Linked DNA regions of Homo sapiens: all the other regions are linked to region 3. The links come from fine-mapping of genetic effects on gene expression. A gene starts in region 3. Each other region holds a variant in brackets. All regions are shown on one strand. Distances are between the middles of the regions.

Region 1 (10,877 bases), 29 kb before region 3:
GTACACAATATCACTTTGATAGACTGATTGCAATAGGAGGTTGAGTTTATTTCGCTACCACTTACCTCTGGGCTGGCTTTGTCACTTGCTTTTGCCAACATAATGCAGTTGAAGTGACAGAGTGCCAGCTGTAAACCTAGGCCTCAACAGAGGCTTCTACACTCTTTCAGACCCTGCCTTTTCCATGAGAACATGCCAGGGCTAGCTTGCTAAGTGTGAGAGGCTAATGGAACTGAGCCCAGCCATCCCAGCTGAGATCATCCCAGACTGACCAGCTCCTAGTCAACTTACCAAATGACTTGGATGAATGAATCAGTCCAGCCAAAATCAGCTGAGCCCAGTCCAGAGCAGCAGAACTACCTAGCCAATGGTTCTTAATATTATGCCACTGAATTTTGGGATAGTTTGTTATGCAGTAATAGCTAATGGTTATAGTCATCTATGTTGTAATTTTTGCATTAGTTTAAATGCAAACTGATCATGAGGAAACAATCAGAAAAATGTATAGTGAGAGACATTCTGCAAAACAACTGGACTAGATGCTACAAAAGAGTAAGTGCCTGGCAGGGCACCGTGGCTCACACCTATGTCCAACACTTTGGAAGACTGAGGTGGAAGGATCACCTGAGGCCAGGAATTCCAGACCAGCCTGGGCAACATGGTGAGACCATCTCTACAAAAAATAAAAAATTAGCTGGGTGTAGTGGTGTGCACCTGTAGTACCAGCTACTCCAGAGGCTGAAGCAAGAGGATCACTTGAGACCAGGAGTTTGAGGCTGCAGTGAACTATGATCACGCCACTGCTCTCTAGCCTGGGCAATAGAGTGAGACCCTGTCTCTAAGTTCATTAATTAATAATAATAAAAGTCAGTGTCATGAAAAGCAAATAAAGTAGGGAAATGGTTCTTGATAGTCTAGAACAGGGTTTTTCAATTTAGGTATTAAATGACATTTGGGACTAGGTCATTCTTTGTTGTAGGGGGCTGTCCTGTGAATTCAGGCTCTTTAGCAGGCATCCCTGGTCTCTAGATACTAGATACCAGTAGCACACCCAGTCATGACAATCAAAAATGTCTCCAAGCGTTGCTAAAAGTCTGTCTTGGGGCACTGGACTAGAGAAACGGAATCAAATGCAATGTATGGACCTTGTTAATATCTTGGATCAAAGGCTATGTAAAAGACATTTGGTACGAATGAAGAAATCTGAATCTGAACTTAAAGATGTTATTATTGAATCACTGTTAATTTTCCCAGGCCTGAAAATGGAACTGTAGTAATGGAGGAAAATGCCCTTATTCTTAGGAGATGTATGCTGAATTATTTTAAGTGAATAACTGTAAAGTATTCAACTTACTTTCTAATGCTTCAACGGTTAAAAATGTATATTTACAGAAAGAGATAAAGCAAAAGTGAAAAAAGTGTTAATAATTGGTGAATCTAGGTGAAGCATATAGGCACATTCCTTGTACTATTCTTCCATCTTTGTGGGTCTGAAAATTTTCAAAATAAAAAATTGGGGAAAGAACGAGTTTATTGCATCTCTACTGCCTGGCTCTTCATTAATCTAACGTGATAGAAGGAGGAGGCTTGTTTTAAATGAATCTGAGTGCTCATTTTGTGTTGCCTGGGAAATGAGCTAGCTCAAACCAGGTGTGGAGAGCTAGGGCTGAGGAAGGGGGCTTCTCTCAGCCTGAGAAACTGTACACAAGCTCATCTTCCCAAGGGACCACTGTCTTCCTTTCCCTTGTGTAACATTCCACAGGAACCAAAGTCTAGATGCTGGGCAGCTTGTGTGCGTTTCCCAGATATCTCTGGTAAACAGCTGACAATAAATTCCAGGCTGCCTGGTGCCAAGATAATCTGATTATTCCTTTCATGATAAGGCTGCTCTCACACTTGCTACATACAAAAAAGAGACCCAAAGAAGGACAGAGTTCCCTTCCTTGGAACGCAAACCATCTCGTGAGGCTAGCAGGTCACCCAGAGGACGACGGGAGGATGGGGTCCTTGTGCCTTCCCTTCTCTTAATGACTTTCCCTTTGTAAGTTTTCTCTTTCCACAGAAAAACCTAATTTCTTAACCTCTACCGTGTGACAGGGGAATTCAAATCAAGCTCTGGTGCATTAAAATGGCAACTGCAAAGAGACCTATTTTGCAAGAGAGCTAAGGTTTATTTTTTTTAATTTTAATTTTTGCTCTTATTTTTATTTTATTTTATTTTGTAAAGACAGAGTGTCACTATGTTGCCCAGGCTGGTCTCAAACTCCTGGGCTCAAGCAATCCTCCCACCTTGGTCTCTCAAAGTGCTGGGATTATGGGCATGAGCCACCATGCCCAGCCAAGAGCTAACATTTAAAACACAGGCAGAACTCAGAAACCAAAAAGATAAATGCTGATAAACACATTGTGTAAAACATTTAAAACCTTTATATGGTAAGAATAAAAATGACAACAACAACAAGAACACACCATGAATAGAGCCAAAGACAAATGACACAGTAGAAAAAGTTGCAATCCAACAGAAAAAGTGCTTATTTCTTTATTTTACTAAAAGATCTTACAGTTTTATGAGGGAAAAAAGAAAAAAAAAGGCATAAAGAATAGGAACAAATATTTCATACAAATAGAGTGGCAAAAAGCCAGGTGTGGTAGTTCACGCCTATAATCCCAACACTTTGGGGCCAAGGTGGGAAGATCACTTGAGCTTAGGAGTCTGATACCAGCCTGGGCAACACAGCAAGACCTCGTCTCTACTAAAAATAAAATAAATTAACTGGACATGGTGTTACTTGCCTGTAGTGCCAGCTTCAAGGGAGGCTGAGGCAGGAGAACTGCTTGAGCTTGGGAGATGGAGGCTGCAGTGAGTAATGATTCCACTACTGCACTCCAGCCTGGGTAACAGAGCAACGTCCTATCCAAAAAAAAAAAAAAAGGAAAAAACACTTGAAAAAATACTTAGCTTCATTAGTGCTTAGAAAAATGCAGGTCACAACAGTGTGATACCATTTTTACCTATGAGTGACAAAAATTTTTAAATTCAATAAAACTTAGTTTTGGCAAAGTTACAGTGAAACTTACACTGTCGATGAATATAAAGGAACAACTTTTTTGGCGGTTACAATTTAGGAACATTAACCCAATCTTAAATGTACATATATTTTGATCCAGCAATTTCATTGAAAGGAATTTATCCTACAGAGAGTCATACAAGTCCCCAATGACATGTGTATAAGGATATTGATGGAAATGTTGTTTATAATAATAGTGTAAGTAGAAATGATTTAAAGTTCATCAGTTAGGCAACAAATAAATTTATGGCCCATCCAATGATTAAAACATCTACATGTGCTATTATGGAAATATTTCTGCTATATTACTAAATGAACAAAGCAAGGTATAGGATGATATATATTATTTGCTCTGTGTAAAAATGGAGTCTATTTTATATATCTTAATATAGAAAAAATACACCAGAAATAATTAACAGTGCTTGCCTTGTGATAAGAGTGGGAACGAGATTTTTCCCTTCCATTTTAAATCAGTTTGAAGTTTCAATTTACAGTTGCCCCTTGAAGAACATGGGTTTGAATTGCATGGGTCCACTTGTATCTGGATTTTTTAAAACCAAACTCAGATAAAAAAATACAGTAGTTGGCTCACACCTGTAATCCTAATTACTCGGGAAGCTAAAGTGTGAGGATTGCTTGATGCCAGGAGTTTGAGACCGGCATAAGCAACATAGCAAGACCCCATCTCTTTATTTTCATTTTTATGTATTTATTTATTTTGAGATGAAGTCTCACTCTGTCACCCAGGCTGGAGTGTAGTAGCATGATTTCAGCTCACTGCAGCCTCAACCTCCCAGGATCAAGCGATCCTTCCACCTCAGCCTCCCAAGAAGCTGGGACCACAGATGGGTGCCACCATGCCCAGCTAATGTTTTTGTATTTTTGGTAGAGATGGAGTTTCACTGTGTTGCCCAGGCTGATCTGGAACTCATGGACTCAAGTCATCCACCTGCCTCAGCCTCCCAAAGTGCTGGGATTACAGGCATGAGCCACTGCACCTGGCCAAGACCTCATCTCTTAAAAAGATATATATACAGGCTGGGCGTGGTGGCTCACGCCTGTAATCCCAGCACTTTGGGAGGCCAAGGAGGGCAGATCACGAGGAGATTGAGAACAGGAGATTGAGAACAGCCTAGCTAACACGGTGAAACCCTGTCTCTACTAAAAATATAAAAAATTAGCCACGTGTGGTGGCGTGCGCCTGTAGTTCCCGCTACTTGGGAGGCTGAGGCAGGAGAATCGCTTGAACCCGGGAGGTGGAAGTTGCAGTGAGCCGAGATAGCGCCACTGCACTCCAGTCTGGTGACAGAGCGAGACTCCGTCTCAAAAAACAAAATATATATATATATGTGTGTGTGTATATATATACACAAATACTCTGTGTGTGTGTGTGTACATACACACACACACACAGACAGTATTTGCAGATACAAAGCCCAAATATCTTGAGGGCTGACTTTTTGTATCTGCCCGTTCTGTACGGACAACTGCAGGCCTTGAGTATGTGTAGATTTTAGTATATATAGGGGCCTTAGAACCACTCCCCCGAAGTCTACTGAGGGATGATACAATTTTTATTATGGTCATGTATTACTTTTACAATGGAAAAAAATGCACAGATTGTGCCTTGGAACAACTTTCAAAATGTCAATCAGTGCTCCTTATGATACTTTTGAAATAGGACAAGGTTGTGTGCAGGGTAAATTGTTTTTAGCTGGAGATGCGAATATGCAAATGGTACTCATCCATTGCAACTAGAAGTGTGAATTTTAGAACCTAGGAAGATTTGATCAGAGCAGTTACCAAGTTCATCCTTGAAGCAGCTCAGGTTCAGCCTTTAGCCAGACTCCTATTGGAAAGCCCAGCAAGGGAAAAATAATGTAATAGGAAATTTTCTTTCTCCTTCTCTTTCTTTGCCTCTTTGTGGAATTTCTTCAGGAACATGCAAGTTAAGATATACACATGACGGCCGGGCGCGGTGGCTCACGCCTGTAATCTCACCACTTTGGGAGGCTGAGGCGGATGGATCACGAGGTCAGGAGATCGAGACCACGGTGAAACCCCGTCTCTACTAAAAATACAAAAAATTAGCCGGGCGCGGTGGCAGGCGCCTGTAGTCCCAGATACTCGGGAGGCTGAGGCAGAAGAATGGCGTGAACCCAGGAGGTGGAGCTTGCAGTGAGCCGAGATGACGCCACTGCACTCCAGCCTGGGCGACAGAGCAAGACTCGGTCTCAGAAAAAAAAAAAAGATATGCACATGACTCAGAGGTACTGAGATATGAAAAAAATTTGCCAAGGTGCTTGGATGATTCTTCCTCTTTACAAATGCATCATATTTGTGCCTGGCTGGTCCTCTTTAAAGCACCCAAGGTATTAATCTGAGAGGACAGCCTCTATCTGGGGAACATTTTTTTGTTCTCAGTGAAGTGGCACATTCAGTTCCTGGTGCAGGCTCACTCAATTTCCATTAGTCATTTCACAGCTGTATCTTGGGAAGAGAAAATTTCAAATACTTTTGGCTGATTTCACAAGTAAACAAAAAACAAGGCCTTCCCTCTTTTCTCACAGATCTTGTTTGTTTACAGTTTTCAAGTCAATAAAACACGCCTGTCTTTGTAGATGTTTCTCCTAAGTGTGTTAGTTGTCTGCTGACCTATCTGCCTGGCTTCCACTCTACTCTTGTACCTAGATTTGTTGCCCTCATGTTGCAGGTGAATGCTGGACTACCCACTCTAGTTTGTTATTAAATCGATGGAGCAATTTTTGTTTGGTAGTTTAGTATTCTAAGGCTGTTCATGGACACCATTTAGAAACGAGGGTCAACTATCAAGCGAAATACTGAATCTGATCATAGGTTTGTTATTTTTTCAGTTGTTTAAGGGCATCAGATTAGCACTTTGGGAGGCCGAGGTAGGAGGAGCGCTTCATGCCAGGAGTTTGAGACCAGCTTGGGCAACAACAGCGAGATTCTGTCTCTATTGTTTATAAAATTAAAACTTTTGAAAGAGGATATTAGATGAGT[G/A]CACAAATTTGTTATTATGGGGTCACTATGAATACTGAAGATGCACACACAGGGATCATTATTGTAGGGTGGTTTGTGACAGCTGGCCCTGTTTTAGTTATTTCCTCAAGAAGACACTTGAACAATTATTGCAATGCCTCCTCTCTGTAATTACAATAATAATCATGATGATTTTGCAACTGAATATTCAATTCAGGGTGTATACACTCAACTACTGTTTTTAGCTTGTTTCTCTTTTTACATTGATGTCAGCTGCTGTTGTCAGAATTGAACAGAGAACCATTTTTCTGGTGAAGGTCAATGAACTACATGAAAAAAGGAATCTGGGGCCAATACAGGAAATTATAAGAAAAATAATTACAGTTAGGATTTAAGGAGTGCTAACTATGAGCTAGATTTTTTTCTCCTTGGAGAGAGAAATATAATATTTTCAGCACTTACCTGCTTTTAAAACTAATAGAATATCTCATTTAACCCTTTTCCCATTTAGAAAAAAAGTGTAGCTCGCCGCCAGCACTCATTTAATTTTACATAAACATGCTCTTTGAGGCTGAAGCAAATCTGACTGATTTTCAATGTGAAAATAAAATATAAAAACTGTTCTTAGAGTTAATTCTAAACAGAACTAACATCAGAATCATCTGAATCATCAGAATTGTCTATTTCAGAGAAATGGGATTCATCAAATGAATCTTTGGCCAACTGTTCGTTAACGATGTTAACGTCGCACATAGGAATGCTATGTTTTCTAGGATTTGACATTTTCAGCAATCGAGAATTACTGTATTTTGTAAATGGAAATACCACCTCTAAAAATAGAATGCTATAAACAGAATGATGTCTTTTGTTTCCAAAGTCAATATACTAGAGCGATGTGAAAATAATAATAAAAGCAAGATATTTTGTGGCAAAGTTATCTCGGGGTAAACTCTGCAGCCACAAGCGCTGCTGGTGAGTATTCTTGGGGCAAACGAGAAAAGGGTTAATAATTATAACTATCTGACAATGCTTTTGCTTCATATTATAGTCAATTAAGGAGCTGGGAGTGGGAAAGATGATGAAGCAGAGAAGAGAGGTGTGTAATTGTGGGTAAGGGGGAGAGAATAGAGACTAAAGGAAAATAAGACACAGAAGGAATAGTGAGGTGCAGAGGCTAAGAAAGAAATACAAGAAATAGGTGCAATAAGAATGACAATGACGAGGTTGGAGAGCAGGTGAAGGAGATGGCAGGCAGGAAGGGAGAGGAAGGGGAAGAGAAAAATGGCTGGAGAGTGGGGAGAGAGACAAGTTTGGAGGGTGGGAAAAAAAAGCATTTGTGTTTGTTTTTAAGATCAATGTGGGGCTGGGGGTGGTGGCTTATGCCTGTAATCCCAGCACTTTTGGAGGCCGAGGCAGGTGGATCACTTGAGGCCAGGAGTTCAAGACCAGCCTGGCCAAGATGGCAAAACACTGTCTCTAGTTAAAAAAAAAAAAAAAATCGCCAGGTGTGGTGGGGCACACCTGTAATAATCCCAGCTACTCCAGAGGCTAAGGCAGGAGAATCGCTTGAACTCCAGAGAAAGAGATTGCAGTGAGTTGAGATCACGCCACTGCACTCCAGTGTGAGGTGACACAGTGAGACCCTGTCTCAAAAAAAAAAAAACAACCAAAAAGAAAAAAAAAGAATGTGGAATCTCTAGAGCGTGGCATTCATACCACCATCACCTGTTGCTGGTTCTCTCTTTGAAATACTGATTAGCCACTGTTCATAACTCTGTAGGTATTCAAATCATTTTAATTGTAGACCTGATGGATACGGTGGGAAGGCAGAAATGGAAATCTTACAAGGTGGATGTTTATGCTGGCTGCCATTGCAGTATTTGGTTTCTTCATGCTGGCTTTTCGGGAGAAATTCCAAAGGGAGGAGGTGAGCTCAGCTGTCAGTTACTAGCAGCTTCCTGCCTTTTCTTATCCTAAGACTTAACGTGAGAAAGTCTCAATCTTGGCTGTACATAGACATCTTTTGAGGAACGTACAAAAATGTTGATACCTATGGTAGATAAAAGAAAAGTTGATCCCTAGGCCCCACCCCTAATATGTAATTGGTTTGGGATGTGGGGTGAGGATTTTTAAAAGTTCCCCATGTGAAGCCAAGGGAGAGAACTGCTGCTCAGAGGCTTCACTATAAATATGTTCACCAGAGAATCCCATTATAACACTGATTATTTTGGGGGCTATGACATCAGTGAACTAAACATTCAGTTGGATGAAACTCAGCCAAAGGCCAGAGGTTCTCGACCTTTGTGCTATACATGTAGTAACTGGCATAGCTGTGAATTGCATGTGGAGCTGTGGGAAGAAAGAGATCCTCTTGAGGCTTATTTGGAACTCTGCAGGAAGAAAAGAAGTCATCAACATAAGAAAGGTCTCTATTAAAAAATTATGTTCGAGAAATACTGAACTTGATTTTAACATTATGAGGGCATCTAGTGTCTCTTGGAAGGCAAACGTCAATTGTCCTTTTCAGACTAATCTGAAATCAGTCCAGGGAACCTGGAGAAATGGTTTGCTTCTTTTCTGCTTGTTTGTTATGGTCTATAGCTCAGTTCATTCCTTGTCACGTAGGACAGCCCTGTGTTTTCTTGCCCTCTGACCTGCTCTCCAAACTTCCAGAATATGGTTCTTTTCAGGAGTGAAGTTATCTAGGATTTGCTATCACCAGGCTCTCCTACCTCTGTCATTCCCCAGTTCTCTCTATTGCAGTAACACTGAAACTTATTTAACCTGCCCATCACCTGTGCTGATATTTTCAAGGGGAAGAGGTGGAGATAGAAGCTATCCCACCAGCCCCATCCTTTGATGCCAGGTAACATGTGCAATATTTCCATTTAGAGTGGCCTTCCGGAACCAAAACTCCCAATCTGGGAAGGGATTCTGATATGACAACTTTCATGTGAAATAGGAAAAGTTTAATTGACAATGCCACAGGGGCCAATACCTGTAGGAGGATGGGATTCTTTCTAGATGATTGTGCTACAGGGATAGCGTTCATTAGGAAGTGTGGTATTTGGCCTGTGGCCTTATGGAGATAATACTATTTCTATCGCCTCTATTATATTTTACATTCCAACCCTTTCTGAATGCTCCATGTATATTAATTCATTTAGCATCTGACTACTCCATTGTGAGCTCCTCAATAACCAGGTGTACGCCCAGCCCCTGACTCATGGGAGGTGACCTATAGATGTTCACTAAATAAATGGATGAAAGTTTAACCAATCCAAGTGGAAGCAGGGGGAAAATGAAAGGAACTACTTCCGTCTCCTTCACAAAGACCAGGCTGACGATCTGACTTGTGGTGATGGGAGAAAAGTGTGGAAGATCTTGACTTAACATTTCTACCTGGAGCGCTGGGGTACTCTTTTTCTGAGCCAATTTCACTCTTCCCAAAAGGCTGTTTGGTTCCAAATACACTAGGCATCAGTGTTAATTGCTTTTCTGAAATATCATTTTGTCAGCTTCGTTTAGATGTGGTAATTTGCAAAGCAACCCCCAGCAGTTGACAGTTCATCCATAGCTGAGTGGTGTTCAGACATTTCCTGGGATTCCTGCCCGCCTTCTATGCAGCTGGCAGTGTTTGCCAAACCAGGATATGTGCTCAACCGGGATTAACTTGGAACCAGTAGTGCTTTGTTGTGTCTGAGATTTTTTAAAATTCTGAAAGGGTGAAGGCCAACCATTAGTCCAGAAAATAAAAGTGCAGTAACTTATAATTTAAGAATTAGCAGGTGCTTCAAGATGACCTAGTCCACACTGGGTGGATGAGGAAATTATGGTTTGACAGGTTCAATGAGAAGGTCAGCTGGCTGGTCGCTGAGAGGCCAGGTCTACAATCTGTATCGTTTGTGTGGTACCAAACTGTGCGCTGGGGTCTCTAGATTTATGCTTGTGTGGATGTGTTTCAGCTACTGTTTCTTTCTGAAGCTCTTTTTCCCTGGCCAGAGACTTCCTGAACCTCCTTCATACATGTTTCAAGGTCACAGCCCAGACCAAAGTGTTTACAAAAAAAACTAAGCACTTATAAAGAGGAATTATTGCCAGCTCCTGAACTCCCAATGCCCCAGCTCCAACTAAGCTCTGCAAACCAAGGAAGGGATGAAGTGGTCTTTGGAACCAGGAGTTTCTTGGTTTGGATGCCAATAGGAAAACGGATGAATTCTGTCTGATTTCTGCAGCAGGCGGAGGCTGCAGCTGCTGTTGCTGCCACCTCCTGGGAGAAGACAGACCTTAGCTTCATACCTGAAGCCAGCCTCAGTGTTCACCTGTGTCTTGGGCAAAGGGCCCATTGGGGCAGGACTGAAATTACTTTCTCCTGGAAAATAAAAGGGATATCCCCTTACTCAACAAACAGAACCCTGGTATTCTTTGCTTTTTGTTTGTTCGTTTTGGCAAGGTTATGCTTGAAGAAATAATCTCAAACAATGACAAAGTTGTAATGAGTTAATACCGGAACCATGAGAGAGCAGAAATAAGATTGAGGCAGAACCATTTGTTTTAGGAAAGTATCAGAGATTCCATCTCTTGGACTTCTGAATCCTGGGGTGATGTTAGGAATGCACGCACTTGAGAATTGTATGATATAAAGGATGCATGAATTTGGTGAGTCTCAACCTCTAAGAGTCTCAGTTTACTTGTGGGGCTGTTATGAAAATTAATTGAGATAATGCATGTAACTTCCTCATATGAGAAGTGTTCAATGTGAATTATTTTGAGGCAAGTTCACTCTTATATCCCCATTGTGATTTT
Region 2 (10,877 bases), 42 kb before region 3:
TGGTATAAATGGATTCATACAATATATAGTCTTTTGAGACAGGGTTCCTTCACTTGTTTTCCAGGTTCATCCATGTTGTAGCATCTATCATCAGTAATTATTACTTTTTTCTGGCTGAAAAGATTCCATTGTATGGCTATACCACATTTTGTTTACCCATTCCTCAGTTCATGGACATGGATTGTTTTCACGTTAGGCCACTATAAATAATGCTGCTATGAGCATTCACGTACAGGTTTCCATGTGGACATACGTTTTCATTTCTCTTGGTATATATATGGCTAGGAGTAGAATTCCTGAGTAATTTGGTAACCGTATGTTCAGCATTTTGAGGAACTGCCAAACTGTTTTCCAAAGTGGTGCCACCATTTCACATGCTCACAAGCAATAGATGAGGGTTCCAGTTTCTCCAGATCCTTACCAACACTTGTTCTTGTTATTATAGCCATCCTTGTGGTGTGAAGAGATGTCTCACTGTGATTTTGACTTGCATTTCCTGAATGACGAATAATGTTAAGTATCTTTTCATGTGCATAATGGCCATTGGTATATATTCTGTGGCAGAATGTTTATTTAAATTATTCATCCATGTTTTTTTTTTCTTTTAATTTTTTTTTTCTTTTTTGGGAAAGAGTCTCACCCTGTCACCCAGGCTGGAGTGCAGTGGCACAATCTTGGCTCACAGCAACCTCCACCTTCCGGGTTAATGCAATTCTTGTGCCTCAGCCTCCAGAGTAGCTGGGATTATGGGCTAACACCACCACACCCAGCTAATTTTTTGTATTTTTAGTAGAGACAGGGTTTCACTATGTTGACCAGGCTGTCTTTGTCCATGTTTTAATTGAGTCATTTGTCTTTTTATTCTTGAGTAGTAGTAGGGTTTTAAAAATATTCTGGATATGAGTCCCTTGTCAGATACATGATTTGCAAAGATTTTTTCCTGTCCTGTGGACTGTCTTTTCACTTTCTTGATGGTGTTACTTGAAGAACAAAAGATTTTACTTTTGAAGTTCAATTTATCTATTTTTTTCTTTTGTTACTTCTGCTTTGGCGACATCCAAGAAACTATTGCCAAATCCAAGGTCATGAACATTTACTCTTGTTTTCTGATAGGAGTTTTATAGTTTTAATTCATGCATTTAGGCCTATGATCCATTTTGAGTTATTCTTTTTTTTTTTTGTATAGTGTTGAGAGTTCAACTTCATTTTTTTACAGGTATCCAGTTGTCCCAGCAACATTTGTTGAAAAAACGGTTCTTTCCCTATCGAATTGTCTTGGCACTCTTCAGAAATTCAATTCAATACCAATGTGAGGGTTTATTTTTAGTCTCTCAAGTCTATTCCATTCATCTATATGTGTATCCTTATGCCTTATGTCGTGATTACTGTAGTTTTCTGGTAGGTTTTGAAATCAGGAACTATGCCTCTTCCAACTTTGTTCTTCCTCTTCAAGATTGTTTTGGCTATTTTGGGTTGTATTTCCATGTGAATAGCATGATCAGCTTGTCAATTTCTGTAAAATAAAAAAAAAGTTGGGATTTTGATGGAGATTGCATTGGATTTCATTTTTCAGGATTATTCATTGCTAGTGTATAGAAATACAATTGATTTTTGTTTATTGATCTTGTATCCTGCCATATTTCTTTTCTTTTTTTTTTTGTTTACAGTCTTGCTCTGTCACCCAGGGTGGAGCGCAGTGGCATGATCATAGCTCACTGCAACCTCCAACTTGTGAGCTCAGCAATCATCCCATCTCAGTCTTGTGAGTGGCTAGGACTACACATGCACACTCAGCTAATTTCTAAATTTTTTGCAAAGATGGGGGTCTCACTATGTTGCCCAGGCTGGCCTTGAACTCCTGGCCTCAAGCGTCCTCCCACCTCAGCCTCCCAGAGTGCTGGGATTACAGCCACCATGCCCAGCCACTGCCACATTTCTGAGCCTGTTTTATCTTATACTCTTATCATGGTGCTTTACTGCTTACTCTGTGGGAGGCATCATGTTAGACACTAGAAATAAAAAGATGGGCTGGGCATGGTGGCTCATGCCTGTAATCCCAGCACTTTGGGAGGCCAAGGCGGGTGGATTACCTGAGTTTGGGAGTTTGAGACCAGCCTGACCAACATGGAGAAACTTCATCTCTACTAAAAATACAAAATTAGCTGGGCATGGTGGCGCATGCCTGTAATCCCAGCTACTTGGGAGGCTGAGGCAGGAGAATCGCTTGAACCCGGGAGGCGGAGGTTGTGGTGAGCCGAGATAGTGCCATTGCACTCCAGCCTGGGCAACAAGAGTGAAACTCCGTCTCAAAAAAAAAAAAAAAAAAAAGAAAGATGAAGAAAACATGGTCTTTGTCCTGAAGAAGCTTATAGCCTAATTCAAAAAGTAAGACATAAACTTATTGATTAAACAGTAGCCCTTGACAGCAACATACAGGGAAGTACATAATTGCCAAATGAATGTTACCAGATGATTAGAGATCTAGCAAGTTCAGGGGATGAGGAGGGACGTGGAGGCTATAGAGGTCTAGGAGAAATAGAGGAGGAGGGATCTGAGCTGGGTTCGAAGGCTCACCTCCTTCCCTTCCTTCTTTCTCCCCTTCCTTCTTTAATTTTCTTATTTCCTTTTCTCCCTTTTCTCTTCCTACCCATCTTCTTTGAAAACATTAATAGAATATAACCATGGTTGGTTATCATTTCTCAAACCTGGCGATCATCAGAATCTCTTGGCAAGCCTTTTAAATATACAGATTCCAGAGTCTCATGTCAGACCTATTGTATCATATTCTCAGATGGTGGGGCATGGACAACTGCATTAAAAGTTTTATCTGATTTTCAGCCAGGTTTGGAAATTTCTGGATATGACTATAGTCATGATTTCCACACGTGGACCAATCCTCATCTTCATTCCACTGCAGCTCTGACTCTGTTTAGGATGCTCACAAGGCCAGCAGGTCACACGGGCACCTAGTAAGGGAGGGGAATTGGGCCTGTGCAACAGCTCCTCCGTTCATGAACAGCATCTCAATCTGCATACGTTACTGAGAGGGCTCTTCAGTGTCATTTATGTTTATGGGGATGGCTCATTATACAGATCAAACTTTTATTTTCTGTAACTGAGAATCTAAGAATCTCAAAAGATCCTTCCGCTGTCGATGGCCATGACCCTCAGAGTTACCTGTGGGATATGGACTCATTATCCAGATTTAATAAATAATAACGGCTTGCCATGATAAAACCTTCTAGTTACAAGAGAAGGCCCTTCCCTCCCTCCCTCCCTCCCTCCCTCCTTCCCTTCCCTTCCCCTCCTTCCTTCCTTCCTTCCTTCCTTCCTTCCTTCCTTCCTTCCTTCCTTCCTTCCTCTCTCTCTCTTTACTGCTTTCTTTCTTCTCTTTTTTTTTTTTTTTGAGACAGCATCTCACTCTGTTGCCCAAAACAGGCTGGAGTACACTGGTGCACTCACAGCTCACTGCAGCCTTGACCTCCTGGGCTCAGGTGATCCTCCCACCTCAGCCTCCCGAGTAGCTGGGACTACAGGCATGCACCACCACAGCTGGCTAATTTTTGTATTTTTTGTAGAAACAGGGTTTCATGATGTTGCTCAGGCTGGTCTAGAACTCCTGGGCTGAAGCTGTCTGCGCATCTTGGCCTCCCAAAAATGCTGGGATAACAGGCGTGTGCCATTGTGCCCGGCCGAGAAGGCCCTTTCATTTCAACTCTCTCCAGAGGTAACCAATCTGTTGAAGACTGTGAGTGTCCTTCCCACATGTTTTTATAGTTTTACTACACAATAGGCAAGTTTTGCATGTTTAAACCTGTATGTAAATAGTGTACATATTTTTTTCTGTAGCTTTTTTTCTCAACATTGTGATTTGGAGATTTATCTGTGGTACTTGTAGAGCTAATCCATTCTATATAACATAACATTATATTATATAATACTGCAATGTAGTGCTCCATTGTGTAAATGTTCTAGAATCTATTCTCCTGTGGGTGGATATTTGTTATGGCCAGTTTTTTGCTATTCCAAATCATGATGTAAATCATGCCCTGGTGTACGTCTCCTTGAACACATGTGTGAGAGTTCTAGGGAATATATCTAGAACAAAAATTGCTAGGGAATAGGATATGCGCACTTCCGACTTGACTAGATTGCCTTCCAGCTTACTGTCCACAGCAGCTGAACCAATTGTTATATATCTCATCAATGATATACAAGAATTTGTCTTGTCCCACATTCTAACCAACGCTGTCAAGTTTTTTAAAAATACACATATCTAAGCCCTATTTTCATAGATTCTGATAGGTTCACTCTGGAGTGTGGTTTGAAATAGGCTACAGGTGGTTCTAAAACACAAATAAAGTTAAGTCTGCTCCAAGTATGCATGTGTATATGATCTAATATATTGATATGTGGATTGTCACGCTGAGGTTACTCTGGTGCTCTGTTGGTAGCATCTATGTTGGCTGGATTTAGATGTTTGAGGAAAGGGTGGGGAAGTACCACTGTCCAACATACAGATACACTTTGAATAAAAAAGCGGTCTGTGATTTACCAGTGCACTGGGCTGTAGTTGATCTAAAGCCCTACCTTTGCCAGCTACGTGAATAGGGTGGGCCCTTTCTAAGTGCTGCCTTCCCTCTCACCAGGTGTGTGGCTGGGTATCAGCTGTCAGGGCTTGCATACGTGCGGTCGCTTAGGGCAAGGTGCCTGTCAGCTATGTCTGCCAGCCCGCTGGGTGGTGTCACTGTGTGGAGCATTTGTGGCTTTTTCAAAGCCCTGAGGAATCTGAGAAGCAAGTGAGGGGAATGATGCATGAAAACAAAAGGCAGTGGAAAGAGTGACCAGCCAGCAGGCTCCAGCAGGCTAGAACGCTCTGTCCTTGTTATTACTGCTTCAGGAAAATGCTGCCAGCTTCCTGGCAGGGCCTGGAAGGTAGAGGCTTCTTGAGAAAACAAGGATAAGTGATG[C/T]GTACTCTGAGGCTGAGATTCCGGTTCCCCAGCCTCCCCGCTTTTCCAGCAGAAGCTGCAGGGTGAGGATGGGGAACCGTTTGCTCCTTGGTGGGTTTGGCCAGTCTTTCATTCTCTCCTGGCTGCTGTCCTAAGAGTTTTTTCTCCTTTCTTCCACTCATAAGCAGCACGGCTCTGGTCTCAGAGGCCTAGCAGGGCTGGCCTGGGAGGGAAGCTGGGCGGTGCCCTAGGCAGAGTTGTTCCCTGAGGAGTGATGTGAAGGTCAGCCTAGGGGAGGAAAAAGGGCCTCAGCCATAATTCCCATTCAAGGAGTGTTTGCCAAAGATGAACCTCCTGGTGTGGGGCAATGAGACACGGGATGCGCTCATACCTTGTCCACTTTCCCCCTGGTACTGCATTCACAGGATAGCCTAACCCAATTTTCCGAAATGAGGTAGAAGCTCAGCAAAGGTAAGCGTTTCCATGTTAACTTATTATCAGATGGATGTGAGGACCTGTCGTAATTGGACTTGCCGAAAGTCAACTTCTATTTTCCCTCCTGACAATCACCTTTCTTTGGCATATAAAATACATGGATGCAAATTAGGGAAGAAGTCAGCATTCTTTTCTTCTCTTAAAAAGTAGCGATGAGGATAAAGAATAAAAATAGGCCTCTGTAGATACAATAGGGCTGAGCTGAGGGTGTGGTTTGCTTGGCAACAGCTCAGGCAAAGCTGTTTCTCTTGGTCCTGGAATGCCCTTGACTTCACCTCTGCCTGATGCAGTCTTAAGAGACCAGCTTGATTGTGAGTTTTTTTGGTGAAACTCCCATCAATAGTTAGTCATTCCCTTTTTTCTGGCCCCATAGCATTTTGCTCTTATAAAAACCATTCATCATATTGCGTGACAATTACTGACTTGGGATCATGCCTTATTCTCTGCGTGTGTTTCCTCAGCATCTATGGACTTTTTTTTTTTTTTTTGAGACACAGTTTCACTCTGTCGCCCAGGCTGGAGTGCAGTGGCGCCGTCTCACTGCAACCTTCGTCTCCCGGGTTCAAGCGATTCTCGTGCCTCCACCTCCCAAGGAGCTGGGATTACAGGCATGCGTTATCACGCCGGACTAATTTTGTATTTTTAGTAGAGACAGGGTTTCACCATGTTGGCCAGGCTGGTCTCGAACTCCTGATCTCAAGTGATCTGTCTGCCTTGGCCTCTCAAAGTGCTGGGATTACAGGTGTGAGCCACTGCGCCTGGCCAATGGACTATATTTTAACATAGTAGTTCTTTGATAAATGTTTATTGAATGAATCAAAGTTCCTAAGAAGATATCAGTCCTCAGCTCTTATATTTTCTTAATTATCCCCTGCCTTTTCCTTTGTGGGGTGATCTGCAAGCAGTTTCATCTGCACGTGGAATGGAGGACATGCTAAAAGTAAATGTAGCTTTGTTTTTTTTTCCTCCCCCAAGGAATTGCCTCAGTAGGAATGGGTGTTTCAGATATATCATTCTGTTACAGGTACAAAAAATTGTTTCCAGGAAGCACTGCCATCATTATCTCTGAGAGGCAAGTCAGTAGAAATTGTTATTTTCCATTTACAGATGGACAAATGGAAGGTTTCTTTCTCATTTACCAATTACAGAATGTCCACTCTGTTTAAAGTACTGTGCTAAGATTTTTATGGGCTACAAAGATGTACAAGACAAGGTTCTTGTTTCGAATAAGAATGTCATAATCTTATTTGGATAAAACAATATTTATATAACAAAAGAACTACAACTCAGGAGCATATAGTTTGAGGCATATGAGTGGTCCCAAAAGGAGCCCCAATGGGCCAGGCACGGTGGCTCACACCTGTAATCCCAGCACTTTGGAAGGCCAAGATGGGTGGATGGCTTGAGGCCAGGAGTTTGAGACCAGCCTGGGAAACATAACAAGGCCCCATATATACTTTTAAAAAAATTAGCTGGAAGTAGTGGTGCACACCTGTGGCCCAGCTTCTTGGGAGGCTGAGATGGGAGGATCGATTGAGCCCTAAAGATTGAGGCTGCAGTGAGCCACAATCGTGCCATTGCACTCCAATCTGGGTAACAGAGTGAAATGAAACCCTGTCTCAAAACAAAACAAAAAGTACCAAAGGGAATATAAAAGGCAGGCAAAAGAATGTCCAGCTAAAGTGATCAGGTATATCCTCCTGTCCCATCTGAGATGAACAGGTTTTGTGCTGGTTATTCTCCATCTGGCTCCTGTCCTGGTTTTCTGTGACTGCCGTAACAAATTACTACAAACTGGATAGGTTAAAACAACAGAATTTTATTTTCTCACAGTTCCGGAGGACAGAAGTCTGAAATCAAGTGTTGGCAAGGCCACACTCCTGAAAGCTCTGGGGGAGAATCTTCTCCTTGCTTCTTCCAGCGTCTGGGGGCCCCAGGCCTTCCTTGGCTTGTGGCCACTCCTCTGAGGTCACATTGCCTCCTCCTTTTATCTCTTAAAGTTTCTGCTTCTCTCTTATAAGGATACATGTGATTGCATTTAGGGCCTACCACAGTGATCTAGGATAAGGTCCTCCTCTCAGGATAAGGTCCTCCTGAACTTAATCACATATTTTGCCATGTAATGTAATATTCCCAGGTTCCAGAGATTCGGCTGTGGGCATGTTTTGTTGGCGGGGGAGGGGGAGGAGAATATCATTCAACCCATTATAGCCCTGATATGGTTAGGCTTTGTGTCCCCACCCAAATCTCATCTTGAATTTTAATCCCCATAATCCCCACATGTTTAGGGAAAGACCAGTGGGAGGTGATTGGATCATGGGGGAGGTTCCCCCCATGCTGTTCTCGTGATAGTGAGTGAGTTCTCATGAGATCTGATGGTTTTATAAGGGGCTCTTCCCCCTTTGCTTCTTACTTTTCTCTCTCCTGACGCCATGTGAAGAAGGTCCTTGTTTCCCCTTTGCCTTCTGCCATGATTGTAAGTTTCCTGAGGCCTCCCCAGCCATGTGGAACGGTGAGTCAATTAAACCTCTTTCCTTTATAAATTGCCCAGGTTCCAGTAGTATCTTTAAATTATAGCAGTGTGACAGTGGATTAATACAAGCCCCATGTCCTTCTCTGCCACACTCTGTTCCCGACAAGGATGTTACCCCACAGATTTCGTCCCCTGGGAGCCAGTGCCCTCTGGCTTACTGTTGGGTTTGTCCAATGGCAGGCATCAGCAAGTATCAGAGGGTAGGAGGCAAAAGAGGTTGAGATATTTCTTCTCCTTTCCTCCCTGCTTTAGCGCCATGGGTTTGGCATTAGGTATGCCCCTTCACAGTTCTAGCTCTTTCTGGACTCTGATAAACTGTTTCTCTTCAGGCCTGGACTTCTACTGCTACTCGACCTTGGGTGCCTCAGTATCCGCTTAAGTTCCCACCACCCTCCCTACATCCTTGTAAATATCAATTTCATCAAATGATTTTCAAAATCCCAGCGCAATGTGCCTTCAGTTTTGTGCCATGATCTTGAGTGATAGAGATTCCAAGAAGCAAAAATTTAATTTTCAGAACGGAGAGATATACTCAGGTTACCTCAGTCTAAGCTTAAGACTAATACAAGCCCCATGTCCTTCTCTGCCACACTCTGGCAACGAGGAGTGGGAAGGTGATTCAGCACACAGTGCCGCCCTAGCAACTGGGTTATCTTGTGGGCCCTTCAGTAGTCAGTATCTGTTGCTTTGCACTCTAATTATCTGCTAGTATTGTGACTCTCCACTGCCCTTGCTGTTCAGTACTTTCTATTCTTTTCTCATCTCACAGCTTCTATTGCTGCATGCTTTTTGCTGCCACATGACCTCAGCTTTCTTCCTTCTCTCTGTGTATCTTTTAGTTTCTGCCCATTTCTAACTGCTGACTCTCTCTTTGTATTTCATATTCAACTCAACAAAAGAATCTGCCTAGTTTGGCTGTTCACCATCAAGTGCAGGTGGTTAGGCAGAGCCTTCTTTTAAAAAAAAAAATTATTTTTTTAAAGTAGAAGTAAATGGGGGTCTCACTGTGTTGCCCAGGCTAGTCTTGAACTCCTGGGCTCAGGCAATCCTTCCACCTCAGCCTCCCAAAGTGCTGGTATTACAGGCATGTCCATCATGCCCGGCTATCAAAGCCTTCTTGACAAACCATCTCATGAGCATAGGTCTGATGCCCTAGATCAGGTGTCCCCACCCCTGGCCTAAATGGCTTTGTTTGGAATGGCAGAATAAATTGTTACGTAATTTGGTGTCCTGTCTATTAGAAACCTAGAAGGGGGTTTATGGGTGTGGCAGACATGATGACACTTGCAGGAAGTGGGGAAGGATGGTTATTAAAACCTACAAGTAGCCAGGTGTGGTGGCTCACGCCTGTGGTCCCAGCACTTTGGGAGACCAAGGCGGGAGGATCCCTTGAGGCCAGGAGTTTGAGACCAGCCTGGCCAACATAGCGAGACCTCATCTCTACAAAAAATGAAAAAACAACCCCAACCGCAAATCCTTACCAATGGACTTTAATAAGCTACAGGATCTAGTACCCACTTGTTTCTTATCTCTTACTACCAGGAAGCAGCACAGCATACTTTAGTGTTTAACAGCATGCATCACTAGAGACAGACCACCTGAGTTCCAATCCTAGCTCTATCACTTGATTGCTGTGTCATTTGGGGGCAGTTATTTAACTTTCCTGTACCTCAGTTTCCTCATCTGGAAAAGGTAAAATCAGTATCTACTTCATAGACTTGCTGGGAGAATTAGTTAATATCTTTCATGTGCTTCAAATAATGCTACTAGTAAGGGCTATTTAAGTGTTTGTTAGGTAAATAAAATATTTCCCCCCATTCACTACATTCCAGCCACATTGGCCTCATTGCTGCACCTCCAGCAGGCCAAGCACACTTCTGACCAAGGGCCTTTTTGTTTGTTGTTCTTCTAGGGGAACACATGACCAATTTCCTTACCTCTTTCTATTCTTTGCCCAAATATTGTCTTTTAAATGATGACAATGCTATTTAAAATTGCAATTCTTGGCCAGGTGCGGTGGGTTGCACCTGTAATTCCAGCACTTTGGGAGGCCAAGGCAGGTGGATTACTTGAGGTCAGGAGTTCAAGACCAGCCTGACCAACATGGTGAAACCTCATCTCTACTAAAAATACAAAATTAGCCAGATATGGTGGCAGGTGCCTGTAATCCCAGCTACTTGGGAGGCTGAGGCAGGAGACTCTCTTGAATCCGGGAGGTAGAGGTTGCAGTGAGCCGAGATCGCACCATTGCACTCCAAGCCTGGGCAACAAGAGTGAAATTCCGTCTCAAACAGTAAATAAATAAAAATGAAATTGCAATCCTCTGTACAACCCTGCTTTATTTTTCTCATTATCACTTACCTACTTCTAATACTCTATGTAAATTTGCAAATTTGTTTTTCACCTATCTCTCCCAACTAAAGGGTAAGCAAGGGCAGGGCTGTTGTTTCATTCTCTGATGTATCCCAGGTGCCTAGAACATTGCATGGAACATAATGGGCACTCATGCTCTTTGTGGAATGAATTAACAAGCTGTATTCAGGTAAACAAACTTGGAATCTATTTTGAAGATTGATTTCTAAATGAGCTTCCTATGGTGCATGTGCAATGCCAAAGATCTTCCCAAAAGTTGTTCTTTTAAGTTGAATAGAGATGATCTCCCTTCCACAATATCATTTATTTTAATAAACTGATTAGCCAACTGTCTTTTCTCCCCAAAGATATTTAAAGGTAAACTTTAGCTGAAACTTAGGTCAACTTCTCTTTAATTCCTAATGAACATACTTTGAATTAATGAGATAGACCAACTCCTAATTAATTGCTGGTAGACTCTGTAGCACTGCGATTTATCCAACATGAGCTAAAAGCTATAGCTTATCATCAGGATATGGAAAGACAAG
Region 3 (10,877 bases):
ATAAAAACTTTTCAAATCTCTCATTATCAAGTATTAGCCAGCACAAATAGCTGTTATTCCTGGCTTTTGAACTTTAAAAAACAAACAAACAAACAAAAAACAAAGGTACCCTTCCAAATGACTCACCAAAACCAATAAGCCTTTATCAAGGTTATGACTTAACCAAGGATGCATGGGGCATCTCCAAAGGAGGTGCAACACAGTCCTCACAAGATCAAGAATCATCCCAAAGACAGCTCAAAGAAAGGGAAGTTTCACTAGCCACAAGTAAAGTACAACTCACATTTCTATCTGATCTCAGCTTCTCAGCTGGTTACTCATGAAGGCCCAAATGGTCTGTATGTCCCACAAATGGAAAAAGACAGGAAATCAAAAGTTGTCCATGGAAGAGATAAGGATCAATAACAATTGGTATCCCAAAAGGTTAAGAATCATACAATACTTTAAAACAAATGAGATTAGCTCCCTGGCTAGGAATTGAACTCAGGCTACAGTGGTGAAAGCACCAAATCCTAGCCATTATACCACTGGATGGGGTGTTTTCTTTGTTTTTGTTTTCATTTTTTTGTTTGTGTGTTTGTTTTTTGGTAAATTTTGCAGGGAATCCAAAGCAGGCAGTTTAAGCATTTAAGGATTTTATCTTGTCTTAGATCTGATCTCATCTGGAATGCTGCTTAGCTAATTCCCTGAATGTTAGCATTTTAAAGACATGATAAGATTTAAAGGGTACTGTCTCACAGTGGGTCAATAAATCAGTGTGTATTAGTTCATTCTCACACTGCTATAAAGAACTACCTGAGACCGGATAATTTATAAATAAAATTGGTTTAATTGACTCACAGTTCTACATGGCTGGGGAGGCCTCAGGAAACTTAAAATCAGGGTGGAAGGTGAAGGAGAAGCAAGCACCTTCTTCACAAGGCAGTAGGAGAGAGAAAGCCAGAAAGGGAACTGCCAAACACTTTTTTTTTTTTTTTTTTTTTTTTGAGACGGAGTCTCGCTCTGTCGCCCAGGCCGGACTGCGGACTGCAGTGGCGCAATCTCGGCTCACTGCAAGCTCCGCTTCCCGGGTTCACGCCATTCTCCTGCCTCAGCCTCCCGAGTAGCTGGGACTACAGGCGCCCGCCACCGCGCCCGGCTAATTTTTTGTATTTTTAGTAGAGACGGGGTTTCACCTTGTTAGCCAGGATGGTCTCGATCTCCTGACCTCATGATCCACCCGCCTCGGCCTCCCAAAGTGCTGGGATTACAGGCGTGAGCCACCGCGCCCGGCCACTGCCAAACACTTTTAAACCATCACATCTCGTAAGAACTCCCTCCCTATCATGAAAACAGCATGGGGGAAACTGCCTCCATGATCCAATCATCTCCCACCAGGCTTCTCCCCCGACACGTGGGGATTACAATTCGAGATGACATTTTGTTGGGAACACAGAGCCAGACCATATCACAGTGTCATTCACTAGACCTGGTGAGAAAAAATTTTGTTGGATCTGCATTTTTATAGTCTCAGCAGTCTTATTCCCATTCTGTTGTTGTTCTGCTTGTTCCTTCTGCTCTAAATTTAAATTCATTTCCCCTGAGAGAAGGAAATGTGTACATTGTGAAATTTTAAAACATCTCTGCCTAAGAGATGTATGGAAGCCAAGAGAAGCGGCAGAAAGGGATGAGTTCAGATCACAGGGCTGGAAGGAAAAGGAGGGTCTGGAGGTGAAAGGGAGAAAGCCTCTGAAGTCTTTTAACATAGTTTCAAATATCCCTTTGTTTACCTCTTGAATGAAGGTGACTTTTTCTTTCAGGATTTCTTTTAGAAGTTTTTAGGTGCCAGTGGAAGTCAGTCTCTTATTTACATGTCTGGTTCTAAAACCAGCTCTTTCCAATGGTGTGCACAAATAAATTACTTTAGGTATATCAAAAGATCCCCATTTTTGGTCATTGTTGCCTATGATCATTCCAGGTTAGATGGGTCTACTTTCCCAGATACTACAAGACAGTACCCCATAAATCATATATGTAGTTCCAGCAGGTATTTCTAAAAAGAGTGTTCAGGTTTTGAACACTCTTATTATTGATTTCTCATAACTCAGGAACTTTTCAAAAGTGACCAAAGCCAGGAATGTGTTTAGGATCAAAGTGTGGCATGTTTTGGACTGTCTCTAATTGTCAGATGGCAGCAGAGTCCTCAAGGATGAGGACAATTGGATTGTCTGTAATTGTCAGATGGCAGCGGAGTCCTCAAGGTATGGGGGACCAGACCCTCGTATTACGTCCACCTGGAAGAGCAAAAGGGGTACACATTTCAGTTAGGAACTAACAGGAATTAGTTAAAATTAAAGACTAATTCAGAATTTTCAAGTGATAGTAAACAACTGCTATCTCAAACACATACGATATAAAATGAAACCACTGGTGCCTAACTGCCAGTTCTTTCACTCAAACCTCTGCTGTGAGACAGAGGTGAAAAAAACTTGACCCAAACCCCTGGTTCTGAGGCAGAGGCAGAAAAACCATGACCTGCACCTCTGCTGTAAGACAGAGAGGGAAAAAAGGCAGTTCCCTGCAGAGCTCTATACCCGAATCTTCTGTCCAAAGACAGAGACCGAAGCCCTCACACTTAAAGAAAGGGTTTGAAAAACAGCCCAAATAAAGTCTAGACCTTCAACCCAAGAGTAGGAGGTCCAAATTCCGGAGAACTCATCTGAAACACCTGATGAGACTTCTGAAGGAAGAGAGTTCACACTGGTACCAAGCGCTGCTTTCAGAGAGAAACACCACCAGCTGGTTGGGGGGAGTCACTGTGAATCCTGCTGACTTACTCCAGATGTTTTACCTAAAAGGAAGAAGCGGAGGCAAAATTAATATAAGTTGGGAGTTTATTTGGGCCAAGCTTGATGACTGCAACCTGGGAACATAGATTCAGGTTGCCTTGAATATACACTCTGAGTAGCAGCAGTTACAAGTGGATTTTTAAAGGGAAAGATGAGGCAGTGCCTGAGTTATTTACCAAGAATTTACATTAAAATAAATCAAGCTACTGATTGGCTATACATTATGAAACTATAGGATGAGGGTTATAATGTCTGGTGCAGCATTAATTAGTAGGTTAATGTTTAGCTTCTGTGGCAATAGTAAGCAGTTTCAAGAGACAAATACACAGTTCAAAAGTGGGGGAGAAGGACAGGATTGCTGTTTCACTTTAATGCCTCTCTGGGCCTCATAATTTAAAAGGATTTGCATTCCTCAGATAAAGTTCTTTTCTTAACATTTAAACAAATTTTCGTCTTGGTATCATAATATAGCTGTCTGTATGTTAACATAGGAATGCTTTAAATTATTTTACCATTTATAAAATTTGTGATGCAGGAAAGCCATGCTATCCTGGGTCTTTACCTTCTGAGTAGCAATTATACCTCAGGGATACACGTTTGTAGTCTGAGAAGTGCTGGCATTTTTTTTTTCCTTTGCAACTCAGAAGTCTCTAATTAAAGTTCTCTTTTAGCATTATTCATTCACTCTTTGATAAATATTTACTGAACATCTTTATTTGCTAGACACATCAACAGGACTGAGGATACAACTGTGAACAAGATATGTATGACTCTTATCTTCATGGGAGCTATCATTTAGAGAGAAAGAAAGGGGAAAAAAGAGAAAATTAAAATATATTGTGATGTGTGCTAAGATAAAGAGGGAAACTTAGAGTGCTAAGAGAAATGTAAAAAATGTTACCTATCCTGTGTTAGCTTGCATAGGAAAAAAAAAATGAAGAAAACTGTCACCTAATCCCAGAGCAGGTGTTGAAGAAAGATTTTCGGCCAGACGCAGTGGCTCATACCTGTAATCCCAGCACTTTGGGAGGCCAGGCCGAGGCAGGAGGATCGCTTGAGCCCAGGAGTTCAAGACCAGCCTGGGCAACAGAGTGAAACCCTGTGTCTACAAAAAAATTTAAAAAGTAGCTTGGTGTGGTGATGTCTGCCTGTGGTCCCACCTACATGGGAGGCTGAGGCAGCATGATCCTTTAAACCCAGGAGGTCAAGGCTGCAGTGAGTCATGTTCATGTGACTGCACTCCATCCTGGGTGACAGAGTCAGAGTGAGATTCTGTCTCAAAAAAAAAAAACCAAAAAAATTTCCAGGACCAAACAGTCTACAGGATGAGCTGGAGTTAGCCAGGTAAAGAATGGGAAAGAATATTCCATGCCTGGCTTAGAGCAAGCTCCGGAGGCTAGAGAGAACAAGGACTCTATGGGAACAAATTCAGTGTGCTAGTTAGTGGGCAGATGTCAAAAGCGCAAAGGAGAAAAGTGGGGGGGGGGTGGTGGTGAGGAAGCTGGAGAGAAAAATCAAGGCAGGTTATGAAGGGCCTCTGTTAAACAGTTTAGAAGGGTATTGAAAGTCACCAAAAGGATTTAAGCTTAAGAAGAACTAATTAACATGTGTTTTTAAAAAAGATTGCTCAGGAACTATGTCTGGAAAAGAACAAGGACTTGACTTACATTAAGGTAAGAAGTGGAATTATAAAATCTGGGGCCCAAAGGAATTGGAGTGAGTTAATTCCTCCCCTTTAAAGTGTCTATTTTCTTCAAAGATAACCACTATATCATCTCTGGGGCTAACATTCTCTGGCCCTTTCCCACTGTCTCTGGCAGCTCCCGACCCAAGTCACTACAGTTACAGCATTCCCTTAAGGAACACATGCTTTTCCAACCTGCTGCAACACAGAAAGCACATGTAATTTTTTATTTTATTGTATTTTATTTGTTTTTCTGAGACAGAATTTCACTCTGTTGCCCAGGCTGGAGTGCAGTGGTGTGATCTTGGCTCACTGCAACCTCTGCCTCCTGGGTTCAAGTGATTCTTGTGCCTCGGCCTCCCAAGTAGCTGAGATTATAGGTGTATGTCACCACACGCAGCTAACTTTTGTATTTTTAGTAGAGACGGGGTTTCACCATGTTGGCCACGCTGGTTTCGAACTCCTGACCTCAGGTGATCCACCCACCTCAGCCTCCCAACGTGCTGGGATTACAGGTGTGAGCCACCGTGCCGGGCCTGGCCTTTCTATCTGGCTTTTTTGATTTGATATCCTAGTAGAGCCCACTATTAAAATTTCCATCTATAGAAACAGGAAGTCAGGAAAGGACTGGAGGGAATTTCGGCAGGTTAATGATTACAACGGGAAGAGAATACAATTATTGAGGTGTTTTGACTCACTTGGTCATTTCCTGAGAAACTCTTTGCTTGAATTTTTCCACTCTTCAGGTGAAGATGATGACACTGTCCAGGCTTTCAGGAGTCCAACCTCTTAGACAATAAGCGACATACTCTTTGGTAACTGCAGTGGCTAAGCCAAGGAATAAATATGCATAACTACAACAAACAGGTACTTGATGAGAACGTTATCTAGAGCTGCCAGATAATTTAGACCAAGTGCACCTTTTGTTGTAAGAAGCTGGTATGATGTCCACATAGTTTTCAGGGCTGCTGTTCCCTCTAAGAAGAAGGAATAGTCTTTTTCCTGAACTACTCTCTCTCTGAACTTTTAGGCTACAATTATGTCAGTTCAAAGTGGGCAGATTTGCCAACTGAAAAAATGATGACACGCAGCTTCCCAACTCTGTAAGGACTTTTCAGGTCTGTGGGTGAACGTCATTCCCGAGCAAACCAATGCCACAAGATTAGTAGGATGCGGCTCACAAGAAATGTTTACAATGAAGGGCATCACAGACTGCAAACCAAACAGGGTAGGAGGACACGGGACCATTTCCTTTTCCTGTCTCCATCTGACTCTGGAAGGCGGGGACAAGACATTTAAAACCAGGACCACTCCAGGAGGACAGCACATTAGCTACTGCCCTCCAGCTCCCTTCAGTGTTGTTTCCGTAAAGGACTTATAAACTGGCGAGGGCGGTGGCTTCCAAAAGCGCACAGGCGTCCCTTTTCCAACTTGGTCTTCTTATTTTCCCTTCCTGCTCCATAACTACAACGTGTTTCTGTTCGTAATCATCTCGGCTTTTCCTTACCTCTGCTTGTAAGAAAAGTCCTTTGCGCCATTCCCCTCCAAGCCCCAGGGAAGGGCCTGGAAAGCGCTTACACCTCAGACCCAGTGTCGGTCAGCCGTCAAGGAGCGAGCGACGTGGGAAACCCTGAGATAGGACATTGGCCCGGCGCTGGGCTCGGGTAACGATGCGGGGCGGGGAGCGCGGGCGGCCGGGGAGGGCGGCGGCCCCTTTAAGAGCAGGCCACGCCCCCTCCCCTCCTCCCGTTCGCTGCCAGCGGTCGGTGGCGGCCGCTACGGTGCTGACAAGATGGCGGCTGGCGGAGCTGTCGCTGCGGCGCCCGAGTGCCGGCTTCTCCCCTACGCGCTACACAAGTGGAGCTCCTTTTCCTCCACCTACCTTCCCGAGTAAGTGCCGGGCCTTGAGCTCGTGCTGCCCCACCCTTCCGCGTCAGCACGGTTGGGCCAGGGGTGCAATGGAGGGCAGCCGAGCCGAGAGGCCCAGGCGGGGCCTGCTGAGGGGGACGTGCGGCCTCCGGAGTCTTAGTTCAGCTGCTGAGAGCGTTGCTCGGCCTCGCTCGGGAAGGGGTTAGGGTCCGGAGAGCGAGCCCAGGGAGAAGGGGCGAGGTGTGTGGCGGATCCGGGGCGCGCACAGGAGAACCGGAAGCCCAGCGGTTCTGCGCTTGGGATTTGGGGGTTGAGGTTGAGGAGGGCTTGGGGGGCGGACGGCTCTGGGGCAGGAATCGGAGTTGGCGGGGCCCTGCCCGCGGGCAAACTACCCCGAATGTCTGAGGTCGTCCGAGGTGGTCGGCGTCGGGGGACAGTTCAGTCGATTGCTGCCGGGACAAAGTGTAAAGCCGAGGAGTGTCTATTCCAGAGTGGGGTCATTAAAAGTGATTAGCTCTAGAGTAGTGTTAAAAGTCACGGAAGGCTGAAAAGTTGTGGAATCCATCTGAATCCTAGCAGGCGGGGAGAACTTGTAGGATTGGCAGACGTTGTCTTTAATGCCTGGAAGTTCTGAAAAAGATAGGGAGTGGGAAGGAGGGACGTTACCGAAGAATTTCAGTATTACGGCTCATTAGAAGATGGGTTTGTATGGACACAGACACGTTTCCCAGTCCGGAAACTCAAACATAGAAACATCTGGCTTTAATGAATTTGATTTTCAACACCGGCTTTGTCTTGATCCCTGATTTAGGTGTTAAAAAAATTCAGTTGCATTGTTAGGTTTTTGTTGGTGGTGTTTTTTTCTCTAGCAAATTCCTTCTGAAATGCTGAAAATACTCTTACATAGTATCTTATTTATCTTTGGCTTATCTTTGAAAGGAGGAGCAGATCTAACTCCAATTTTACATGCTAGTGGAGGAACTGGCTTAGTAAAGGGTTAAGATCTGTGCAGATCCTGAAGAAAAGTGCTAGTTGTCCCTCTAACCATCTCACAGGACCGAAACGATTTTATGAACGAAACAAATTAATGAATAATATATTTTACTGAGTATTTTACTAAACAAAAAAGTGACTAGATCTGTGAAGCATACTCAAGTAAGTTTTCCATCTGTATTTGAGAAATTCTTCACATTTATCCAAATTTGATTTCACTGGTTATATCAATGAAGAATCTCAAAATGGAGCTGCAACTGGAAGAATCTGTCATGACTGCCAGCCTCCCATTTTATTCACCAGGTCAAGGGTTGGCATTCAGTAGGATCTGGCCCAATGAAGGGTGCCAAGTGACCTGTGGTTTGATCTGGCCTGCGTAGCCTATTCATGGCCATATCCCTGATTGATGCTGAAACCCAACTTTGAATTTGAGAGTGAGCCAGATAAACAGTCCAGCCATGTAGTTGGAGTTGAAATGTGGCCCTATGTACTTGACCTCTGATATTCTGGGCTATCTTGTTCTTGGATCTGAAGTTATTCAGCTTTTTTCTATACCCAGGCTAGGATTATGGACAGTTGGGAATTGGTGTGGCATTGTTTGATCTAACTGTAGAGACATTTTTCTGGTCTTGAATTAGCGTATTTCCAGGACGTCACTCCTTAAATTTTTGATGTAGGCCTGAGGCTTGGATAACACAAGTACCATCCGCGTTATCTGTTGTATAGACATTTTAAGAAAGTACATTTCAAGCAGGAAATGATTTAGTGGGATGGCAACTTTAATCTTTTGTGTCTTGTTACTCTGGCCCCTGGTTTGCAGTGGGCAGAACACTAGTTTTGGAGTTAGAAAGCAACAATTTGAGATTGGAGAAATACATTGCTGCAATTTTCTCAAGTACATACATAAAATAGTATTTAATACATACGTAACTTTCATACACTTCCACTTACTATATCTTGTTTAATCCTTATGACATTCTATTGACAAATGCAGTATAATTTGTATTTAAAGTAAAGTATTAGAAGAGTAATCTAAGCTTTTTTCTTTGAAGGAGTATAGTTGAGTATTATGGAGCTGGAGTTGGAGAATATTGTGTCTGCTGGGTTGGTGTGTGCCATGCCTAAATTATAAAACTCTTGGCTCTGAACTTCTATAAGCAAGCAAGGATATTACTTCTCTGTGTGACAGAAGATGTAGGAAAGGGGTTGACTTTACTTACCTTTGCCCTAAAATCCCCTCTAGCAGCAATTGTTGTATCTTTACTGGCAGTGGAAACCATATTAAGGTACTTCTTAAACAGGTCTCATTTTAGGTTAAAGACATTTGTTGAAATTGTCCACAAAGTGGCAAATATTTGTTGGCATAGATCTAAGCATTTCGAGGTGGCAGTAATAAATCAGTAACAAAAATGGTAAACATTTATGATGTGCCGTCCATTTGCTAGGCTCTCTTATGAACATTTTTAAGTGTATCAACTCATTTAATCCTTACCGCAATCCCAAGAGGAATCTCCGTTTGCCAGATGTTGGAAGCAGGTAGGGAGAAGTTTAAACTTGCCTAAGGTCACACAGCTAGATGGAACCAGAATTTGAATCAAGGTAGTCAGGCTCCACAGTCTGTGGTCTTTAACTATAGTGTTTTACTGCTTCTGCACAAAGGTATATATAGTACAGGAAATCAGAACTTTAAAAGAGCTCTTGTATTAAAGGCACTTACATTTTAGTTGTGTAAAGAAATGTGAAGTCATTAAAAAAAATTGAACAATTTTATCTCTATTTTCTTTCTAAGGACTTAGAATTCTTTTCCCCTTCTTCCAGAGGCAGAAAAAACAAATATTTCCCCTTTCAACTCTTTTTAATTTATTTGGACTTTAAAAATGTTAAAGCAGATTCAGTTATAGGGAACACATTTTTACTTTGAGACTAAAAAAAGGCCTTTTATTTTTGTGTGCTTAGAGATTGCCTGTATTTTACTTTTTTTCTGAAATTTACACCTAATTTAATAATTAAATACACTTATTTAAATAATTCATAAAATTACATATACTCTTATACATAAAAATATTTTGTAAACTGCTAATCCCTGTACTCAAATGTTTATTTTTGTATCTAATAATGATGCTAGTTACAATTTAGTGAGCACCTAATATATGCAAGATGCTTTTTGTATACAGTTTTGTTTAATTCTTGGTACATACCTGTAAGATAGGTATTTTATATATGTTTTGTGGAGGATGAAACTGAGGTCCATACAGGGTAAGTAGCTTGCCCAGGGTCATATAGTTTTCCAGAGGCTTGCCAGGTTTTCTGACTTAAAAACTATTGCATTGTGACTTTAATAACAGTCACCACTTATTGAGTACTTTCTATTCTTCAGGCACTGTACTGAGCATTTAGCATGTGTTCTTTGATATAATAGTCTTCACAAAAACCCTATGAGATAAATATTATTATTCTATTTTAGAGCTAGGAAAAGTGAGATTTAGGGAGGTAAGTTAACTTGCCCAGGTCTAAGAGTTGAAAATGTAAGAGGGGCAGGGCAGGGTGGCTCACACCTGTAATCCCTGCACTTTGGGAGGCCAAGGCAGGAGGATCACTTGTGCCCAGGAGTTTGAGACCAGCATGGGCAACACAATGAGACCCCATCTGCAATAATAATAATGATGAGGAGGAAGAAAATGTAGGTGATAAGGTTCTCATATTGGGCCTTTTGACTTCTGTTACGAAAGCTGTTCATTATTATACATGGCTATTGTATATGTCTAATTGAGATTACAGATAAGCGCTCTAAGGTTAGAACAGCAAGAGAGGGAAAAATAGATTTTATCTTGATGTTTAAGATTTTAGTATACTCATATGAGAACTGGGAGAAACTTTGAAAGTATTTTTTACATATTAGGTAATTTCATTGGTATAGAATGATTCTTATCTTGTTTACATATTATTGAATGACTTAGATAATTTAGATGATAAAATCTGATAGATTTTTAAGTGTGTTTACCTTTTTCCTGTTAGTCTTATTACTTAAAATCAAATAGTACTTAAAATAGTACCTTGTGTCAACATGTGATTGATTCATGGTTCAGAGTACAAGTGTTATGATTTGACAACTAGAATAGAAGGTGAATTTATTTCAACTCTTTTCAAAACTAATTTTAAAATTTCACATTTAAAAATGAATATAGGCTAGGCACGGTGGCTCATGCCTGTAATCCTAGCACTTTGGGAGGCTGAGGCAGGACCATCACTTGAGACCAGGAGTTTGAGACCAGCCTGGGAAACATACCCCATCTCTACAAAAGAAAAAAAATATATAAATATTTATATATTTTTATTACATAAAATATATGTGCATAGTTATATATTATTATGTTAAAAATATGTAAATATATATATATTCTTTTCTTCTTTGTCTCTACAAAAGAAAAAGACAGCATCTCGTCAATACCCCATGTCTAAGAAAAAAATAGACACTTTTTATATCATATATATTAAAATATATT

Direction of the effects. Alleles are on the strand shown, and positions count from the first base shown. SD is a standard deviation of normalised expression in the study named.
In carriers of allele A in region 1, the expression in substantia nigra of the gene that starts at base 6,184 in region 3 tends to be lower than with G alone (small effect, 0.30 SD a copy in GTEx).
For the expression in thyroid of the gene that starts at base 6,184 in region 3, allele T in region 2 goes with a lower level than allele C (moderate effect, 0.51 SD a copy in GTEx).

What was found. PIP is the estimated chance that this variant, and not a neighbour inherited with it, causes the effect.
Region 1: its variant is fine-mapped to the expression of MKLN1-AS in substantia nigra (GTEx, PIP above 0.99).
Region 2: its variant is fine-mapped to the expression of MKLN1-AS in thyroid (GTEx, PIP 0.97).

What each region holds. Positions count from the first base shown.
Region 1 is chr7:131,292,967-131,303,843 of GRCh38, forward strand. It overlaps a transcript of MKLN1 not described here. Among named protein-coding and RNA genes, the nearest start is that of MKLN1-AS, 29 kb to the right of the region's middle. The variant G/A (reference allele first, on the strand shown) is at 6,093.
Region 2 is chr7:131,280,042-131,290,918 of GRCh38, forward strand. It overlaps a transcript of MKLN1 not described here. Among named protein-coding and RNA genes, the nearest start is that of MKLN1-AS, 42 kb to the right of the region's middle. The variant C/T (reference allele first, on the strand shown) is at 4,971.
Region 3 is chr7:131,321,596-131,332,472 of GRCh38, forward strand. It overlaps MKLN1-AS (MKLN1 antisense RNA), which reads right to left and starts at 6,184. Exons shown (of 6, transcript NR_125364.1): 1 at 6,020-6,184; 2 at 5,211-5,340; 3 at 2,708-2,830; 4 at 1,770-2,273. It overlaps MKLN1 (muskelin 1), which reads left to right and starts at 6,281. Exons shown (of 18, transcript NM_013255.5): 1 at 6,281-6,402. The coding sequence starts at 6,305. RefSeq lists enhancers at 6,046-6,622, 6,317-6,616, 6,623-7,199 and a silencer at 6,107-6,266.